Linked DNA regions of Homo sapiens: region 2 is linked to region 1. A link means that fine-mapping ties the variant in region 1 to the expression of a gene that starts in the linked region. Tissue or cell type: whole blood. Region 1 holds a variant in brackets; the other region holds the start of a gene. All regions are shown on one strand. Distances are from middle to middle. Region 1 overlaps TRAP1 (TNF receptor associated protein 1). Region 2 holds the start of TRAP1 (TNF receptor associated protein 1).

Region 1 (2,911 bases):
GCCCAGGAGTGGCCACAGGAGGGGAGGTTCCAGGTACAATGTCCCTGGGCTGGATAAGGCAAAGGACACCCACTGAACTGAGGACACGTCTGGCCTCATCTGGGAAGCTCACGGATGAAGTGGAGGCAGGGGCCAGGCCCTGTGGAGAGGGAGCTCCTGGCGTCCCTGCGGGCCGAGGCGGCTGCGTTCCTCTCCCCATCCTGAATGTGTTTCCTGAGTATTTCTTCTCCACTGAGAACTGTGCTGAGCCTGCATAAACACGTGTTTCATCCTGTGAGGGGAGCCGTGAGTCCTCACTCATAGTTGTGGAAACTGAGTCACAGAGGGGTGGTCCTGCTCAGTAAGGGAGCTGCATTCCTGGCTGTGGCAGGCATGCTGGCCCACTGGTAGTGCCCGAAGCTGCAGAGCAGGGGTCCTCATCCCAGCTTGTGGTTGTCAAAGGTTGCGTTGTCAGTCTGAGAACTCATCTCGATCAGAAAAGAGTCAGCCGAAATTAGAGCTTTTGAAAGAATCACAGGCTTAAAAGTTGGAAGCATGGTACCAAGAACATGTTTTTCCTCGAATCCTGTGAGAGGAAGTTGCCTTCTCGATGCCTTTGGGGTGCATTTCCAACAAACAAGGATGTCCTTCCCTTTGTAATTAACAGATGTTATAGGTATTTTGAAGCTATGTAAATGTCACATTCTTCATGAAACTCTCAATACATTCATTTATTTACTTAAAATATTTATGTGTTGGCCGGGCGCGGTGGCTCACGCCTGTAATCCCAGCACTTTGGGAGGCCGAGGCAGGCAGATCACCTGAGGTCAGGAGTTCGAGACCAGCCTAGCCAACATGGTAAAACCCCGTCTCTACTTAAAAAATAGAAAAATTAGGCTGGGCGCAATGGCTCACTCCTGTAATCCCAGCACTTTGGGAGGCCGAGGCGGGTGGATCACGAGGTCAGGAGTTACCAGCCTGCCAAGATGGTGAAACCCCATCTCTACTAAAAACACAAAATTTTAGCCAGTCGTGGTGGCAGGCAGGTGTAATCCCAGCCACTCGGGAGGCTGAGGCAGAGAATTGCTTGAACCTGGGAGGTGGAGATTGCAGTGCGCCAAAATCACGCCACTGCACTCCAGCCTGGGCGACAGAGCGAGACTCATCTCAAAAAAAAAAAAAAAAAAAAAATCAGCCGGGTATGGTGGCAGGTGCCTGTAATCCCAGCTACTTGGGAGGCTGAGGCAGGAGAATTGCTTGAACCCGGGAGGCAGAGGTTGCAGTGAGCCGAGATCACGCCACTGCACTCCAGCCTGGGGGACAAGAGCAAGATTCGTCGGATGGAAAAAAAAAAAAAAATT[G/T]ATGTGTTATATTTATACTATTTATAATTTATTTATATGGGCTGATTTCCTGTTTTATTCAAGAGTTTATAATCTTGCTATCATTAATAAAATTTTTTTATTTTTATTTATTTATTTATTTATTTATTTTTGAGATGGAGTCTTACTCTGTTGCTCAGGCTGGAGTGCAGTGGCGAGGTATTGGCTCACCGAAACCTCTGCCTCCCGGATTCAAGCGATTCTCCTGCCTCAGCCTTTCAAGTAGCTGGGACTACAGTCACCCACCACCATGCCCTGGTAATTTTTTGTATTTTTAGTAGAGACGGGGGCTTACCATGTTGACCAGGCTGGTCTCAAACTCCTGACCTCTGGTGATCCGCCCGCCTCAGCCTCCCAAAGTGGTGCGATTACAGGCAGGAGCCACCATGCCCCGTTGATTATTCTTAGCACGGTTACCCATTTGACCAATCCCCCTCCATGTAACCAATCTACCATTGCCACTGCCCTCTTCTGCGGGTGTCCCTGTCACCTACTTGGGCTCTGACTCTTCACGGTGGGCTGGTCACGCCCCCAGCCTGGACACCCTTCTCTGGGGTTCTTGGGCTCTGACACCCATACCAGGCTCTTCCCAACCATGGCCCTGCATAGACACCTTCCCTGGGCTCTGCACCGCATCCTGGGCTACTGTCCCCCCGCTCCCAGGCACGAAGGCATGTCCTGTCCCATTCTGCCCTGTGGCTGAAGGACTGAGTCACTGGGGATGGAGTGTGGGAGGAAAGGCTCTAAATGAACTCGAGAGAGTGTTGTTCCCATGCTCTGGATTATTGAAATACATTGTAATTTACCTGCTTAAAGGAAAGACTAAATATTAAGAAGAAAATAAAAATATCCCTAGTCCCAGTGATAAAGTTGTTCCTAATTTTAGGCCATTATGTAATGCTGCAGTAAATATCCTGATCCCTAAAATCCCAATTTTGAAAAATTAGAGTATACATATATTCAGTATAAATCCCAAATTACAGTGTACATATATAGTATATACAGTGCTGCTCCTAATGATGGAAAATTGTTATGTACATGTAGAATGTGCATTCTTTGCCTGTATCTATAGACGTACTGTAATTTACCCACATTGGGATTTTTCTGGGTTTTCTTTCAACACAGCTAACTTTCTCATGTCATTGAGGATTATTAAAAGATGCAGTTTTTTTTTTTTATGGCCATTTAGCATTACATAATTTTAGCCTATATTCTTGAACATGAGGTTGTTCATAATTGTTATATTTTATGTGCCACAGTGAAAATCCTGGTACATAAATCTTGGTGTGCTCACATGTTTCCTAAGGTGCAGTTCCTATAATTGGAACAACTGGCTCAAAGGTTGGAAGGGTTTTCCGGGCGTGGGTATCTTGTCTCTGGGGGCATCGGTTCTCCTACTGCCTCCAGGGGGTGTCTGCCCTCCACCCTGCTGCCTCCTGTCCGGCCACTGCCCAGGGTTTCTGTCTTTCTGCTCAGTCTTTTTCAGTTTGGCCAATAACGGTACCTTGTTGTTTTCACTTCTTTGATTCTTAGCGGGGCTGAACATTTTTTCG
Region 2 (2,911 bases), 50 kb before region 1:
GGTGTGAGTCACCGTGCTCGTGCCCACAACCCCTTATCTTCACCCAGACACTCTTTTTATTGATTCCAGGTCTGTATAACTCAACTCTTTTTTTTCTTTTTTTTGTTTTCTTTTTTTTTTTTTTTTGAGACGGAGTCACAGCTCTGTCGCCCAGGCTGCAGTGCAAGTGGCACGATCTCGGCTCACTGCAACCGCAGCCTCCCGGGTTCACGCTATTCTTCCGCCTCAGCCTCCCCAGGAGCTGGGACTACAGGCACGTGCCACCTTGCCCAGCTAATTTTTTGTATCTTAGTAGAGATGATGGGTTTTCACCATGTTGGCCAGGCTGGTCTCGGACTCCTGACCGCAGGCAGTCCGCCCACCTCAGCCTCCCAAAGTGCTAGGATTACAGGCGTGAGCCACCGCGCCCAACCAGAACTCAACTCTTTTAACCAATTGCCAATCAGAAAGTATCTGAATCCACCTATGACCTCTAAGTATTTCACCCTTTGAGTTGTCCTGCCTTTCCACACGGAACCAACCTATGTCTTACATGCATTGACTGATGTCTTATGTCTCTCTAAAATGTATAAAACCAAGCAAGCTGTAACCCAAGCACCTTGGGCCAAGTTCTCAGGACCTTTTGAGACTGTGCCTCCCTCCATGCACACTCATATTTGGCTCAGAATAACCTTCTAAATACTTTAGAGTTTGACTCTTCTCGACAAGGACAAGAGAAGTGGAATAAACGAATAACCGCAGTTTTCCTGGTGGTATTGGTCACTGGGTTCAGGTTTTGGAGTAGTAGCCAGTCAAGCCTGGAATCCCCTTCCTCATTCGCTTTAGCTTTTTGTCCAGTCTTGGTTTGCAAGAGACTTGCAGCGGCCTAGACGGATGGCCGGGATTCACAAAGGTCGCAGACACGGGAACTGCTTCTTCCCCAGCGTCGCCTCCACACCCTCGCGTGGATACTGACATCCGCCCCATTCCAGGAATGCGCACAGCTAGGCGCAGCCGGCCAGCGTGGGCCGGGGGCGGCGGGGCCACCTCCCCCACCTCCGCGCGCAAGGCCCGTCGCCCTTGACAACGCGATCCAAGGTCACGGAGGTCCCACCCCCAGGCCCGACCGTCCACGAGACGGGTAGTACCCCGCCACGCGCCCGAGCAGGCAGCTGCCCGGACAGCCCGGCGCCCGCCGTGACGTCACCGCCCCGCGCCCGAGGAAGCCCCGCCCCGCGCAGCCCCGTCCCGCCCCTTCCCATCGTGTACGGTCCCGCGTGGCTGCGCGCGGCGCTCTGGGAGTACGACATGGCGCGCGAGCTGCGGGCGCTGCTGCTGTGGGGCCGCCGCCTGCGGCCTTTGCTGCGGGCGCCGGCGCTGGCGGCCGTGCCGGGAGGTGAGGGCGTCCTGGCTGGACGGGCAGCGGGCGGGCCGGGCCACGGAGACGGCAGGGACGTCCCTGTGCTCCGGGGAGCGAGGCGCCGGCACCTGCTTCACAGGCGTGGGAGGTCCGGCGAGGCCAAGCGCGGCAGACGCGTTTACTTTCGCTCCGCTCCTCGCCAGCTCCAGCTTGGCTGCCTTTTCCTCGGCTGGACTCCCCTCGCCACCCGCCCATGGGAGCCCTGAAGGAGGCTGGGTCTTGGGGGGTCGCGGGGTCGGGCGGAGCGGCTGCGGGGTCGTCCCTCCTGGAGCTTCGGTCCAGTCAGGTAGCGCACGTGCAGGTGGAGCCGCTGCGGAGCGCGGAGTCTTTGCGGGTGCATGTTGCGGGGAATGGACTCACTCGGGGTGATCGTGCTAGTTCCATGGATCGTGCTTTACCCCTCCCCGCCTCCCAGTAGCGCACTGAGGGTTCATTTGTTAATTCGTTCATTGGACGCACATGTGAGCGCCCGCTCAGTGCCCGGCGCCGTGCAGGTTCTGGGGACGCCACAGTGAACAAAACCTATAGCAGTCATCCGGGTCCCCAGAGCAGGTGGACTCGATGTCGTTGACGCAGCTGTGTCCTCGGGGCCTGGAATTGATGGATGCGCCAATAAATGTTTGTAAAACAGAGAGAACGACCCTAACCTCTGCTTTCCCAGTCCCCACTCGGAGGTAACAACAGTGAAAGTTTCGGCATTGCTTCGGGGCTGTACACAGTGTTATACGTGTAAATATAAATGTCTGCGTATAAGTATTTTTTATTCTAAAAAGCCTAAACCATGTATGCATTGTGCTACGTTGTACTTCAGAAAATTTTAACGCTCCCAGCATTCTTTCCACATCTTTTCATGTCAGTGTATACAGGTCCATGTGCCTTCCAGTGACCACACAGTATTCTGTATGATGGACGTGTCATTTGTTTAAACATTGTCCTATTAGTGGACGCAATAAAGGTTATTTCAGGTTTTACTTTTTATTACAATGCTGCATAGAATGGGTGAGTACTTAAATATTTGTTCACGTGCGGTATTTCTTTAGCCTTACATAATTAGAATTTTAGAATTGATATTTCAGAGCCTATGCATTTTTGAAATGTTAGCAGATACTGCCAAATTGTCCAAAAAGGCCTTATCAATTTATATCCCCTTTAGCAGGCATCAAGACTGCCTATTCCAAAGGTATTTTCTTCAACGCTGAATCTTATGTCTTTTCAAAACCAGTGGTCTATAAAAGATACCTTGTGGCCGGGCGCGGTGGCTCACGCCTGTAATCCTAGCACTTTGGGAGCCTGAGGTGGGCAGATCAGGAGTTCAAGACCAGCCTGGCCAACATGGTGAAACCCTGTCTCTACTAAAAATACAAAAATTAGCTGGGTGTGGTGGCGCGCGCCTGTAATCCCAGCTTCTTGGGAGGCTGAGGCAGGAGAATCGCTTGAACCCAGGAGGCAGAGATTGCAGTGAGCTGAGATTGCACCACTGCACTCCAGCCTGGGCGACAGAGTGAGACTTCA

What was found.
Region 2: TRAP1 starts here. The variant in region 1 is fine-mapped to the expression of TRAP1 in whole blood (INTERVAL, PIP 0.96).

What each region holds. Positions count from the first base shown.
Region 1 is chr16:3,666,185-3,669,095 of GRCh38, reverse strand. The region is part of intron 11 of TRAP1 (TNF receptor associated protein 1); the gene reads left to right. Among named protein-coding and RNA genes, the nearest start is that of DNASE1, 13 kb to the right of the region's middle. The variant G/T (reference allele first, on the strand shown) is at 1,341.
Region 2 is chr16:3,715,885-3,718,795 of GRCh38, reverse strand. TRAP1 (TNF receptor associated protein 1) reads left to right here and starts at 1,272. Exons shown (of 18, transcript NM_016292.3): 1 at 1,272-1,375. The coding sequence starts at 1,288. RefSeq lists silencers at 922-1,531, 1,552-1,671.